4 linked regions of the Homo sapiens genome follow. The protein of the gene in region 3 purifies or fractionates together with the protein of the main gene of each other region. This does not show direct contact. Each region holds a gene or a part of one and is shown on either strand. Other genes may lie near its edges.

What was found.
Region 1: the proteins of UQCC1 (region 3) and MGRN1 purify together in Homo sapiens (affinity purification with mass spectrometry; one large-scale study listed by BioGRID and IntAct). This does not show direct contact.
Region 2: the proteins of UQCC1 (region 3) and THSD4 purify together in Homo sapiens (affinity purification with mass spectrometry; one large-scale study listed by BioGRID and IntAct). This does not show direct contact.
Region 4: the proteins of UQCC1 (region 3) and TMEM131 purify together in Homo sapiens (affinity purification with mass spectrometry; one large-scale study listed by BioGRID and IntAct). This does not show direct contact.

The regions. Positions count from the first base shown.
Region 1 is NC_000016.10:4,652,326-4,655,825, reverse strand, and holds part of MGRN1 (E3 ubiquitin-protein ligase MGRN1), read right to left. Parts: intron 3,149-3,500; coding exon 3,002-3,148; intron 1-3,001. UniProt on the Homo sapiens protein: E3 ubiquitin-protein ligase. Mediates monoubiquitination at multiple sites of TSG101 in the presence of UBE2D1, but not of UBE2G1, nor UBE2H. Plays a role in the regulation of endosome-to-lysosome trafficking.
Region 2 is NC_000015.10:71,741,471-71,744,970, forward strand, and holds part of THSD4 (thrombospondin type-1 domain-containing protein 4 isoform 1 precursor), read left to right. Parts: intron 1-3,500. UniProt on the Homo sapiens protein: Promotes FBN1 matrix assembly.
Region 3 is NC_000020.11:35,303,974-35,307,473, forward strand, and holds part of UQCC1 (ubiquinol-cytochrome c reductase complex assembly factor 1), read right to left. Parts: intron 2,807-3,500; coding exon 2,693-2,806; intron 97-2,692; coding exon 1-96. UniProt on the Homo sapiens protein: Required for the assembly of the ubiquinol-cytochrome c reductase complex (mitochondrial respiratory chain complex III or cytochrome b-c1 complex). Involved in cytochrome b translation and/or stability.
Region 4 is NC_000002.12:97,789,949-97,793,448, forward strand, and holds part of TMEM131 (transmembrane protein 131 precursor), read right to left. Parts: coding exon 3,447-3,500; intron 3,037-3,446; coding exon 2,438-3,036; intron 1-2,437.

The DNA.
Region 1 (3,500 bases), on a different chromosome or scaffold from region 3:
GGAGGCAGGGAGGGTGGCTTGCCCTGCAGCTCAAATGGATGGAGCACTGGCAGGCTGGATGGTGTCCGGGTGCCTGGGCACAGCCTCCAGGTCCTGGAGCCTCCAGGTCCTTTTCTGTGATCCCTGCTGGGAGGGGAAGCTGGCCTTGCACCGCGTCCTGAGAGAGGGGGACAGTGGCACTGGAGCTGTTCCTGCTCTGTGATGCCTGCTGGGAGGGGAAGCAGGCCTCGTACCAGGTCCTGAGAGAGGGGGACAGTGGCACTGGAGCTGTTCCTGCTCTGTGATCCCCGCTGGGAGGGGAAGCAGGCCTCGTACCAGGTCCTGACAGAGGGGGACAGTGGCACTGGAGCTGTTCCTGCTCTGTGATTCCTGCTGGGAGGGGAAGCTGGCCTTGTGCCAGGTCCTGAGAGGGGGGGACTGTGGCATTTCTCTCATCACTAGCCCGCAGGGGTCTAGGAGAGGGTGACACCAGCCAGGGCTGGCAGGGCACCCTCTCTGCTCTCTCTAGCCTTTCTGGTAGCAGCGGGACCCTCTCTTCAAGTGCACTTGAGATGGTCACCCAGCCCCTGACAGCTGGAGCACTGGGGGGCAGCGGATAGACAACTTACACTGGCCTGTGTCCTCAGCCCACACCCTCTCTGTGGCAGCCCCTGGACACCTCGCCACAACCCAGCTCCTCCACCATGTCGGCCAGGCCCGAGGAGGGCACCAGGCCCCGTGGGTGTCAAACACTCAACCCCAAGCAGTGGGGTGCAAGGAGGGGACAGAGGGGCCTGCCCTGGTCACTCCAAATGCTCCTACGCCCAAGAATTCGACGCCTGTCATAGCACACAGGCATGCATTACTAGTGTCATTAAAGAAATATAATCAAGTGCCGGGGCAAGGTAGAGCCTCAAAGAACAAAGTCTAGAAAAAGGAACCTGTTCCTCCCCAAAGTGCTGCTCCACAGGAGGAGCCCTGGCTGCCGGGGAGCCCAAGGCCAGAGCCCAAGGGCGGCCTCACCTGGTGGCAGGTCCCTAAGAACCTCCCCACATAAGTCGTCTCCACCAGCCCCTCAACTCGAGCACTCAGGCTCCTTTCAAGAGCACCTGTCACGCGAGGGGCTGTGCACAGGACACATGGTCCCCTCCTCACACCACCCACCCGAACTTCCAGCTGAGGACACAGAGGCACAAGCAGTCATGTGCCCCCAAGCCACTCAGCGGGGACAGCATTCAAAGCCTAGGCTCTCAACCACACCCTATCCCCAGATGCAAAGCTGACCACTGAGCGGTGTGCTCCAGTGCAGGAAGGCAGGGGGCACGCTCTTGCCTGTCTCTAAAGCCACTTGGGGCACATGTGCCCTTGTAGCCTGGAGGCAGTCCTGCCAGCTCCTGCTGAAGTTGCAGTTTTCAAACTTTCAGGGCCAGAAGGACCCTTATCTCAAATAAAACCTCTGAAAGTACAAATATCTAATTATGACACAATAAAAAATAAATATTTGGTCCCAGCCCCAGTTCCTGACACAGAGTCCTCTAAAACCCTTGTCATTTCCTCAGCAACAGGGGTGCTAGGAGCCTCTTTTGTTCTAATATTTGTTCCTTGACCTTTGCTCCCAACACAGAACTCCAAACCCTTGGAATTTCCCGGGTGGTAGGAGTGTCTTATGTGCCAGTGAGGTGACTCTTGGCTCCTGGAGGTGGCTGGCTGCCAGAAAGACCAAGCCATGATTAGAGACTTGGAAGTGTCGTCTAAGAGCTCCCGAGGAAAAACAAACAAAAACCTGGGCCAGGTGGGCCGGGCATGGGGGCTCACGGCTGTAATCTCAGCACTTTGGGAGGCCGAGGCAGGTGGATCACCTGAGGTCGAGCGATTGAGACCAGCCTGACCAACATGATGAAACCCCGTCTCTACTAAAAATACAAAATTAGCCAGGCATGGTAGCATATGCCTGTAATCCCAGCTACTCGGGAGGCTGAGGCAGGAGAAGCACTTGAACCTAGGAGGCGGAGGTTGCAGTGAGCCAAGATCACACCATTGCACTCCAGCCTGGGCAACAAGAGCGAAACTCTGTCTCAAAAACAAACAAAAACCACTTTGGGAGGCTGAGATGGACAGATCATGAGGTCAAGAGATTGAGACCATCCTGGCCAACATGGCGAAACCCCCATCTCTACTAAAAATACAAAAATTAGCCAAGCGTGGTGGCACGTGCCTGTAGTCCCAGCTACTCAGGAGGCTGAGGCAGGAGAATTGCTTCAACTCGGGAGGCGGAGGTTGCAGTGAGCCAAGATTGTGCCACTGCACGCCAGCCTGGGCAGCAGAGTGAGGCTTCGTCTCAAAACAAAACAAAACAAAAACAAAACAAAAACCTGGAACTGAATTTCAGCCCAGCCCCATCCTCCAGGGAGGGGACAGGGGCTGGAGATGGAGTTAATCATCAATCCTGCCTACGTGATGAAGCCTCCAGAAAAGGCCCTGAAATGGGGTTTTCAGGAGAGCTTCTGGTTTGCTGAATACGAGGAAGGTGGTGCGCCCCACCCCTTCCCCCACACCTCACCCTGTGAACCTCTTCATCTGAATCCTTTACAATAAACCAACAAACACCAGCCAAGTGTTTCCCTGGGTTCTGTGAGCCACACTAGCAACTCATCAAGCCTGAGGAGGGGACTGTGGGAGCCTGATTTATGGCTGGTTGCTGAGAAGTTCAGGTGACAGCGGGGGCTTATGAGTGGCATCTGAAGTGGGGCAGTCTTGTGGGACTGGGCCCTCAAAGTGCAGGGGTTGCATGACCTCCAGGCAGCGTTGGAACTGAAACCAGTCAAAGGACCCCAGCTGGTTCCCGCAGAAAAGTGGGGAGTCCCTGGGGTGGGAGAAACCCCTCACATCGTGGTAAAGTCCTGGGAGTATGGTCAAAGAGCACGGTTTGGTTTTCTCCCTCTGGTTAGTAAGGTGGACAGAAGCCTCCCCCAGGAGTCTGGGGCCCCCAGCCAGGCCGGTGCCAGCCGCCCGCGGGACTCACACTGCCCTGCCGTTCAGGAACTCCTCCGATGCCTGGCAGTAGATGGTGATGGCCACGCGGGCATCGGCGTCGAAGGTGAACTCCAGGCTGTAGAGCACCCGGGGCTTGTCGCCGTCCTCGGTGGGGCTGTCGGCATCGTCTTTGTACCTACCCCAGGCGGTGGAGAGAAAGGCAGCGGGTCAGCGGCCCCATCTGCGGAGGCTGCCTCCTCCCCTGCCAGGCTGAGGGGCCGTGGAGGTGGCTATGTGGACACAGCCCGCTTCTCCAGTAGACATAGGGGCTGTTTCCTATTTGTACATGAAAGCCCAGTGGTCCAGGGCTTGCCTCTCCTTCTTCCTGCCCACAGAAGACGGGGTACGTGCTTTTGGTTCAGAGACAGCCCCAGATGCCTCAAGTCTAGTCGGTTTAAGCAGTTTCTGAACCTGCTGAAATCTGGTGCTGGGTCATTCCTGTCTGTGGGGGGGCCGTCCTGTGCATGGCAGGAAGTCTGCAGCACCCC
Region 2 (3,500 bases), on a different chromosome or scaffold from region 3:
CAACAGAGCAAGACTCCGTCTCAAAACAAAACAAAACAAAACAAAAAAACTGAACAATCTCTTTCTCTAGATTTCCATATGATTTTGTTTAATCTTCTGTCCTTTGCATTGCAGAAACACACACACAGAAATTCACAAGAGTGTGAGGTATGGGACTGAGCATGCACAGGACCCATTTTCAATATTTAGCCCATATACACCCATGTGTGCATGTACACACACACACACACACACACACACACACACACACACACACACTCGGCATCTGCCACTCAGAATGTCTGAGGCGACATGTCTAGCTCTTCTTTACCCAGTAAATGGCACCAGTTCTCAGGCCCAAGAGATACTGAAGAGGTGCCTTGGAAATAAAGCAAACCTAGGGATGTGTTGTTTCTCATCCCTCCCTTCTCTGGCAATCCTAGTTCCTTTTTCTTTCAAGTGACAAGTGGCAGCGGCCCGTGGAGGCCTCTCCTTTGCTCTGTCCCAGGCGGTGATGGCACCAGACATGCAGGGTAGGTGAGGCAATGCGGAGGCACAGATGCAGAGCACATCTAATGGTCGTCAGCAGTCATGGCAAGTGACCAGGAAATCCCAAGCCTCCCGGCATTGTCCAAGTCACTTATGCACAGAATAAGTCTGTTCCCCTTGTGATCCCATTGTGTATTTTCTCACATACCCTCGCCTAAACCCTTCTCCAGTCCTCCCTGGTGGAGCTAACCACACCACACAGTTCTGTGCTTTTCATGGTCAAATTTCCCTTTGTCTAAGTGCTTCCAGCATCATGATATCACCATCTCAGGGAAGGGCCCTGTTGCTGGCATCCAAGAGTGGTCCATACTCACACAGCCATTGATCAGGCCTCTGTCAAACTCTTGGCTTGTTTCATTTGATTCCTAGAGTTCCAAGTCTAAAGTCATTTACTTTTTTCTTGCTCTTTATTTTGTCTCTCTTCCATAATGTCCCACTGACCTCTACACTAGCCCCTGAATTCACTGACCTCATTTATTATCTGCTAATTACCTGTGTACAGTTCCCCCCTTCAACATGACATATTTCTATTTTGATCAACATGTCCGCATATAAGGCAACCGAACTGATCTCGAATAGTTTTCCTGCTGCCTGAAGCCCAGCCAGTGCCTGACCTCACCACCTTGTTCCTGCTTGCTAGCAAATAGAGGAATAATTGAATTGCAATCTTGAACAATGGGAGGTGGCCAGGTGCTGTCTCCCTTTCTAAATATATTAAAACTGACCCAAAGAAGGAAACCACTGCGGTCACTAGACTCAAGAGTTGTAGATATGGGTCAGGCGCCGTGGCTTATGCCTGTAATCCCAGTACTTTGGGAGGCCGAGGTGGGCAAATCACCTGAGGTCAGGAGTTTAAGACAAGCCTGGACAACACGGCAAAACCCCATCTCTACTAAAAATACAAAAATCAGCCAGGCGCAGTGGCAGGCACCTGTAATCCCAGCTACTTGAGAGGCTGAAGCAGGAGAATCACTTGAACCCGGGAGGTGGAGGTTGTGGTGAGCAGAGATCGTGCCACTTCACTCCAGCCTGGGTGACAGAGCTAAACTCTGTCTCAAAAAAAATAAAAAAAGATTTGTAGATCTGGCATTTTCCCACCTTCAGAGAGCCAGAGGGCCTCTGAGTTCATTTCCGTGGAGCTGGACCATGGACAATGTCCATAAACGCCGTAAAATGTCAAGGGAAGACAAGCAGTGGCCAGGTGCTGGACAACCCCAGCAGGACCCATCTTCCCAAGACACAGAGCATTCCTATGGGAGCCTGTATCCTTTTGATTAAAAAAATTTGATTTCTCCCTTATTTGAGTGCCAAGTGGTTGAGATAGTTCCTTTTGCTTTCCTATCCACAAACATCTAAGTGGAAAAGCTAAACCCGCATGGTCTGAAGGAAAAGGAATAGGCTAAATAAGATCTTTACTTAATCCCTTAATAGCCGGGTCCCACTGCAAGCTGTGAACCATGTATTCACCTTTATAACTGCACAGTGTACTTAATGTTTGTTGAATTTAATTAAAAATCTGTTCTATTTAATGGAAGGAGATCTGTAGCTGGACAAACTTTAATTCCACAAAAGTTCTTTGCATCCCATTAACTTTACAGTCAGTACTGCCTTTTACTCAGCCAATAATTGTGCTTAATTGGAACGTTATTTTAAATAATGGTCTCAAGTTATAGCCACACTGTAAATTTTTACTACCAGGGTAATTTAAACAAATGATCGTTTCAGATTCAACACTGTCTTGCAAACTGTCAAGTTTCTTACTACCCTCTGGGTCAGTGTGTCATACAAGATGAGCTTGAAAAACCACTGAAACACTTTCATGACTGATGAAATATTAAGATGTTTATGTTAAAAGATAGCCCCTATGTTGCAGTTAAAATTGTAAGGAGTTGGAACTTCAGAAAATATGAATGCCTGGCCAATTAGCAACAGAGATAAGACAGAGTTGTAGAATAAAGTATAGTGTTCTTCCCGGCAGGAGTTGTATACTGGCCTGGACTGTGGGGAAGACAGTTATTTGTGAAGAAGCATCTTCCCGTGGTTGGTTCAGGTTCAGGGGTTACATTTCTCACGTTATAAACGTCCATTAATAATAGCTCAGTGTTGCCACCAGGTGGCAGCAGAGAAAGGAAGGCAGAATTGAATCAGCTTTTTTTTTTTTTTTTTTTTTTTTAATTGACACCTAGACATTCCATTTAACAAATTCTGGCTTTTTATCGAAAATAGATGTATCCTTATTAATCCAATGAAAGTAAAACAAAAAACCTAAAACAGTTATAAACATTCATTCAACACCATTCAAACATTCATTCAACACGGTCATTTATTGAGCCCCTGCTACTCTCCTAGGTACTGGGGCTACAGAGATTAAGAAGTAGCCCTGTCCCTCAGAAGCTCACGGTCTCATGGGAAGTAGACAAATGCTCAGATCACTGAAATACCATTGGATGGGTACTTTATTAGAAGAACATGAAAGACGCTTGCCAAAGGGGGAGGCAGCTGCTCTTCCGCCCTTTCTTGAATCTTCTACTTCTGTGCTTCAACCTATCCCTTAAATGTACCTGGTGTAGCAGGCTAGTTTGTCAGGCAGGTACTTTCATTCCAGTTTAATGACCTAGACAGCCTCCTCCCTCCAAAATATACATGCACATATCTACCCAAACCCAATTCTTTCTCTAGAACGAAGCTTGGCCCATTTAGGACACTTTCTCTTTGACGCTTCCAGAGAACTTTAGAAAAGTTACTATTTGTGTTCCTTCTATAATCATTCCCCTGCCTAGGGAATCTCTCTTTTGTTATCTTGAACTATAATGAAGATGCTTTGTATCTGCCTTTGAGCATATTTAGACCGTGTCCACAAATAGATTATTGATTCCTTTTAGGGCAGGCTCTTCTTTGCACCCCCACAGTTCCTAGCAAAGACCTGTGAGGTAGGTGTGTGTAAACCCTCAAATGAAGGGGGAGCGTAAGTG
Region 3 (3,500 bases):
CAGGATGCTCTGAGGATTCTTCTCCACTAGAGGGCGCCAGCTCACCTCCCCTGTCAGAAGCAGATCCTCCCCGTTCATGGAGTCCAGGTACTGTATCTGCAACCAGGGGAGGGGGAAGGAGGAAGCGACAGAGGCAGGGCAGAGGTGAGGAGCCAGCGTCAGGAACCAGCCTCCCAGAGGAGAGGAAGGAAGGGGACGGGGCATGAGGGGGGCTTCTGACCATCCCAGGTCCCAGACCAAGCCGTCCCAGGCCAAGCCGTCTCTGATCTCCTAGATAATTTCACTAAGGTGGTTCAGAGAAAGCAGTCACTGGGGAGCTGGGTGGCGGGGGCAGTTAGGGAATTCCCTATCACACCTCTGAATGGAGACAGACACACACCTCCCAAGGACACGTCTCCCCTACACGCCCTCCCTAGACAGCTCCTGCAGGCCAGGAAGTCAGGGCTTGCAGCGCACACAGCCATGCTGTCCACCCCAGCACTGCTGGGTGAGAGTCCTGATTCTGTCCCTTCCCAGTGCTGCTACCCAGGGTGGCAGCTTCCCCTCTCTGAGATTTAAGTTCCCTTGTCTTGAGAGAGGGGATAGAAACAGGTACCTCACAGGACACATGAAGAGATTCAACAATATGCATATATGCAGTGCTAGGCACTCACGCTTTAAACATATGTATGCCTCTGTTGTCCTCTAGTGGGCCCCTGGTCAGTGGGCCCCAGTATCACCTCTCTAGGACAGTAGGGGCAGACAGCTCTGCCATTAAAATGGTCATCATCCAGAGAAGCCACTGCTGCAGGGCCAGGAGACTTCATCTTAGGCTTTAGGTCATTCCCCCTTCCAAGAATCCACCACTCTGGTTGCTTCCGCTTCCAGCTGCTGACGCTTGAACTCAACCCCAGCCTCTCGCACGTGTCTTGGCTCTGGATTCCCACCTGCCCTGCCATCTCTTCCCTAAAGCCCACTCCTCCCTTACAGTGACTCCATTTCTGCCCCCAGTGCCACCCCTCTGCCCACCTCCTGGGTTGAAAATCTCAACAGAACCTCTGGTTGGCTCTTGGGCCATCGGCCACACCAAACAGTCTGCTCAAGGCCCAGCTCCTGCTCTTCCTTTCCCGGCCTTCAGCACTCTGCCCTCCCTGTATCACATAACAGGCTGGCTTACTCCAGGGTTAGCCGTGTGCCTGGGCTTCCTCACCAAACCATGAGCTGGCTCCTCGAGGGCAGGACTGGGTCTTATTAATCGTTGCTTTCCCAAGAGTACATGGAGCAGCAGGTGCTCAAAAGGTTTGCTGATAGAACTGGGTCCCCACCAAAGCTCCCTGCTTTCCCAAGAACCCCTTCACGGTTTTTCCACTGCCTCTCACTGGGGCCACATGGGACCTCTTGTAGGGACAATGGTTGTGGCAGCCCCTTCCTAGAGGGCCCTCGGAGAAGTCCCAGTGTGTCTTGTTGGGGCTTCTGGCACAAGCCCACCATGGCAGATGGAAATGTTGGGCAGGTCTCTCAGAAAACACAGCATTTGCTTTGCGAATTGCTACTCCCGTCTGAGGGTGAGTCCAGTCAACAGAGTATCAGAATTCTCTGTGAGTGGGGCCCTCTGGCCATGCCGTGCCCTCTCCCTGGCTCTAGCAGATTTGAAGAGTGGTCAAACAGAAGTCCTGGCTCCTGGGATTCTCTACCCTGTGGGTCTGCAGAGCCCCAGTATGTGGTTTTTCCAGCAGTTAACAAGCTAGTCCTATGGGCCCTGTCTTCTCAAGAGCTGAAGTCCAGCCTTGCCTTTCCTGGTTGTTGAAGACCATGAATACAAGTGAACAAGAGAGTAACTGTGGCGTGACACCCCTTCAGCTCCAGGGGCCAGGCCATGAAGCAAAGGTGTGACTCATGGCACAGCCTGAGCTGTCTGAGGCAGCTGAGGCCTCAGTGGTCACATGAATCACACAGCTTGGGGCCCTAGGGCAGCTGTGCAGGCTGACTCACTGGGAGGCCCTGGAAGAGCCTCTATGTCCTCTTCGCTGCCAGTCAGCTCACTCATCTATCAAGTATGAGTTTCCCATCAATACAGGATCTGAGGGCAGGGAGGTCAAGGAATTAATTCCCCGGGGCTTGAGGACAGCTATGTGGGTAAGCAGCCCCCACTGCGGAGCTTTCTCGTAGAAGCTTTGATGTCGGGGAGCCCTGGGGAGCCAGAGGGGTGAGAAACTGAAGTGGGGGGACTCTACTTGACTGTGGAGAGCATCTAGCAGGAAGAGGCTGTCTGTGAAATGCTGCCTGCTGCCCAGTTTTGCTGGAAGTCAGGAGCAGGAAACAAATCCAAGTGGGTAGAGAAGGGGTCCACAGTGGGCAGCTGCTACTACACCACGTGCTCATATCTGCCAGGACTCTGTGGGCCCAGCTGCTAGCATAGCACTGGGCGCACAGTAGGCAATGAGGTGCACAGTGAATGAATGACTCAAAGTTCCTGAGGGCAGGAGACTACTCGATGCCTCTTTCTCTCTCTCTTCCCATTTCCCGCTCCCTGGCCCAGTTCATGGTTGGACATACAGAAGGCGCTCCTTCTTCAGCGTCTAGTGCTGATGTGATCTGGTCAGAATTCTCTCAGGCTGGTCCTTGGTAACTCCACCTCTCATGATCCCCTGAAAGCCCAAGAGGAGGACCCACTGTTGCCAGGACTTGGGAGGGGAGGGAAAGGGTCACTCACCTGTTTCCTCACATACTCTACCAGCAATTCAAGATGTCGAGGGTCTTCACATTTCCGGTTGAAGAAGGTTCTCCAGAGGGCAGCGGCCAGCCCATGATCATCTGAAAGGATCCCCTGGAACATACAGCACAGCAGTGGTCTCCTGAGGGATCCACAGAGCCAGGACACAGACGGTGGGGATACTATGAACATGCTAGCAACCATGGAATCAGCTCAGAAGGGCCCTCCACGCACAAGAGGAAAATGGGGCAGTCACACAGTAGAGGTGGAAGGGGTCTTACAAGGGTATCTGGCCCAATCCCTTCATTTTATTACATACAGAGGGAGAACAGGGGGTCCAGAGGGGCCAAGCCACCAGTTAGGTGATGCAGAGCTGGGACTCAGGCAGTACTCCGTACTGCGCCTGGCCCAGGCAACACTTGAGAGGCTGAGAAGAGAAACAGTAGCAGCAATGCTCCCCCTGCTGTCCATAGCAGCAATGCTCCCCCTGCTGTCCACAGGGCACGGGCTGGGAATATTGTGAATGTATGTTTCTCCCAGGAATGGAGGTGGGCATGGACTGTGCCTTCTTGCTTGGTCCAAGGACCAAGGCAAGGCAACTGGTCCTTGGGGGAAGGGAGCCAGCTACCTTGTCTTCACTCTTACCCAACTCTGGGCCCAGCCTCTCCCTAAGTAGGGGAACAGGATGTTCAGCAGGATTGCTGGGGCCACAGAGGGCCAGGCTCAGAGCTTGCATGTGTGTGTGTGCCTAACGCTGCCTCTTTTGGCAGAGGAGACTTCTGTTGGGAAGCTTAAAGATTACAGAGCA
Region 4 (3,500 bases), on a different chromosome or scaffold from region 3:
ACCGCAGAAGGCAAGATCCAGGGAGATAAACACATTCACTTGAAGAGGTCATCCTGAGCAGCTTCCAAAAACCAGAAACTACATAAGCTCATTATAAGAAATAATTTTAGTATGAGATACCAGGGGGAGAAAAAAAAGAACGTGTTGCCTCTAAAAAGAGAATGTTACTATTTAATGTAAATCTGCTATTTGCAGGGGTGTGGGGGTAGGCTTTTGAAAGATTATAAAGGTTTTGCCCAGCTGGAAGCCTATAGTTTCACAACATACTACTAGTTTGCAACCCCAAGATCAATGCCCACCTTTTAAAGTTCATTTTAAAGACTGTCTGTCTATATGCATGCTATACTTCAATAAAAACATTGAAGAAGAAAAAAAATATAGATACAGGCTCCTTCCTTTTTCCCAAACAGCATCAGTGGGAAGGATAGTGAGTAGAGTAGCCGCGCCTGCAAAGCTTCTAACCACTGTCTCCTCACAGGCTCAAGAGTCACCAATAATGTGGCATCCATGCTCCCTCACTGAGTATCTCTTAGTAGGTTGACTCTAGGACCACTGTGAAAATTAAAAAGCATTTCATTTTAAAATTTAGGTTCTCAATGAGTGACCCTGAAAATAGAATTGGCCCATCACGCTGGTGTTGGAAGACTGTGTTGACACAGGAATGAGGTAGTCAATTTGACTGCCCAACTCTTTCTTTGTGATAAGAAAGGATAATACAGATTTATTTTATTCACGCCCTAAATGTGGGGAAAACGCTATGTAACTTGATCTAATTAAAAAAGAACTTTTAAGTATTCACTTAAGATTATTCTAAAAATTACCCTAAAATATGTAAGCTCAGTTAATAATGGGTTAGCCAAAAAGGATTTCTGTAGAAGAGGTTAACCAATCATATTCAAGACATCTTACTGTTTTACAAATCCGAATGCGTGTAATTCCAAGAGAACTCAATAGAGCTAGTTTTTGTATTCCTGGGACTAAAAAATTATCTAAAACTCCTTGACTCTGGGATGTCAAGTTTCTTCTGGCCTCTTAGGGCTGCCAAGATCCCTGTTTTCCGTATAAATTGAAGCCCAAAACTCCTTGGTAAACCATTCTGGAAGGGACTGATACAGGCTTGGAATAATGTATATTAGCATGGCTGCCACAAGACAGAAAGGAAGATGCAAAAAAGCTCAGGCTGTGAAGGGATGAAATTGCAATACAACTAGAGGCTATTTACTGGTTTTTACCTTTTGATTCTGGAGCTTACAAACTGGTCTACCTATTTGTGTGTGGTGCAGACTTCCAAGCTCCCAGTGGTGCCCACCTCTTGGTATTTATGCCCTTGCGCGGTTCTCTCTCCTGGAGTGTGGGCTGGACCACACTTCGAATGAGCAGAATACTACAACATTGATGGGATGCCACTTCCCAGATTAGATAGTAAGAAACAGTGACTTCCGTCCTGCTTCCTCCTTGCCCTCTTGTTTGCTCATTCTGGGGGAGCCAACTGCCAAGCTGTGACCCGCTCTGTGGAGAGGAACCATGACAGACCTCTGGCCACAGCCAGCAAGGAGGAGCTTGGGCCCTCCGTCCAACAGTCCGTGAAGAACTGAATCCCACCATCAACTGCCTGTGTGAACGTGGAAGCAGGTCCACCTTCAGTTGAACCTTAAGATGACATCAGCCTTGGCCAACACCTTGACTGCAGTCCTGTGTCCTGTGAGGGCCATGGGACCCCGCTAAGCTGTACTCATGTCCCTGACCACAGAAACTGTGAGATAAGAGTATACGTTCTTTTAAGCCCCTGGGTTTTGAGGTCATCTGTTACTCAGAAATAGGTAATTAATACAGTAAGCAGAACTCTAAAGCAGGGTTGGCTTTTTTTGCAAAGGGCCAGATAGCAAATATTTTCAGCTCTGTGGGCCATATTGTTTTGGTCACAATTACTTAACTGTGCCATAGAAGCATGAAAGCTGAGGATATACCAACAAATGAGCATGGTTCTATTCCAATAAAACTTTATTTATAAAACCAGGTGGTGATTTGGCCCGCTAACTGTAGTCTGCCAACCCCTGCTCTAAAGTAAAGAAATCCTAATTTGGAGTTAAAAGGCAGATGATCTCCATTTTACTCCTGTGCTCAAAATTATTTTAACAATAAAACAAAAGCTAAATCTATCACAATAACACAATCTCAGGCAGCTGAAAAGAAAAGCAGATGTCCACAGAATTTCTGATTTTGGTAAACAATCTAAGAAATACAAATATATCTTTTATGACAGATACCTCTAATTGCATTTTTATGGAAAAGTTGAAGTCCAACACTGGAGATAAATCTGAGCCAGAGGAACCTACTGAATTAGTTGTTTACCACAACTATAATCTTAATAGCTCCTTAAGCACGCACTGGCTTTTCCCTCACACATCACGGATCTCCGGCAGTGGGAGATGATTACCTTTGCTTTTTGGCAATGGCGATGGAGGCTGCTCTGTAAACACTTCTAGGGCTGGGGAGTCATGGTGGTCGAAGTCTTTGTCCATGGCTTCTATGAGACTGGTGATGTCCGAGTCCTCGGAACTGTGCCTCGCGCTGCTGGCACGTTCTGGGTGGGAAGGGTGTGCGAGGGGGGCGGGAGACAGCCTTTCAGGCTGCGGCTCCTGGGGCTGAGGCACTGGCGGTGGCAGAGGAGGCTGAGGGTGCTGCTCCAGCGGGCTGTGGGCATGGTGCTGGCTGCCGTGCTGGCTCTGCTTTGCCCCTTTGGACTTTCTGCCCGCTGTATGACCTTGAGTCACTGTGTTCGAATCTAAGACAAGGGGGCTTGTTTTGTTAGCAGACTGTGAAGAAGCTGCTTGAGCAGAAGTCCTACTAGAGGTACTTGAACTGTTTTTGGCTCTGACGTTTTCCACGTCAGCTGAGTTTCTATTGCTGTGACTGCTGTGTGGGTGGACCGATGGGCCACACTGCTTATGACTCCCGGCACTGGGTCGGGATGATGAACCGCCTGCTCCACAGAACCCCCTACTGTGACCGGGGTCACAGCTGAGTGTGTTCAAGCTGAAAAAGGGACCAACTGCAGATCAGTAAATAGCAACCTACAAAATCTAATATTAAAAAAAAACTTCAACTTCATCAGTACAGCCACCATAAATATAAACTACACTAGGGAAAAAATAGCAAGAAATAGGGAAATTTCTACAACTCTCTAACATCTGTTCTATCTGAACATTTATAATTTACCATCAGTGATCTAACTAAAAGTATTTTAACCCTTACCAATATAATAAAAACACAGTATCCAGCATGAGCTCTAAGTCACTCAGAGTTCCATACAGGGTGTTATTAAGTAATCAGAATTAAGATTTTTTTTCTCCTGAGCAAAGATGAAAAGAAACTTATTTTTTATTGTAATTTTATCAGCCAAATCTATGTACACTAGGGAATTTATTGCCAGCATGTGAACATACTTTCCTTCAGATGAAATACCAACGATTCTCCTGAGATCAAATGGCCTTCCCACA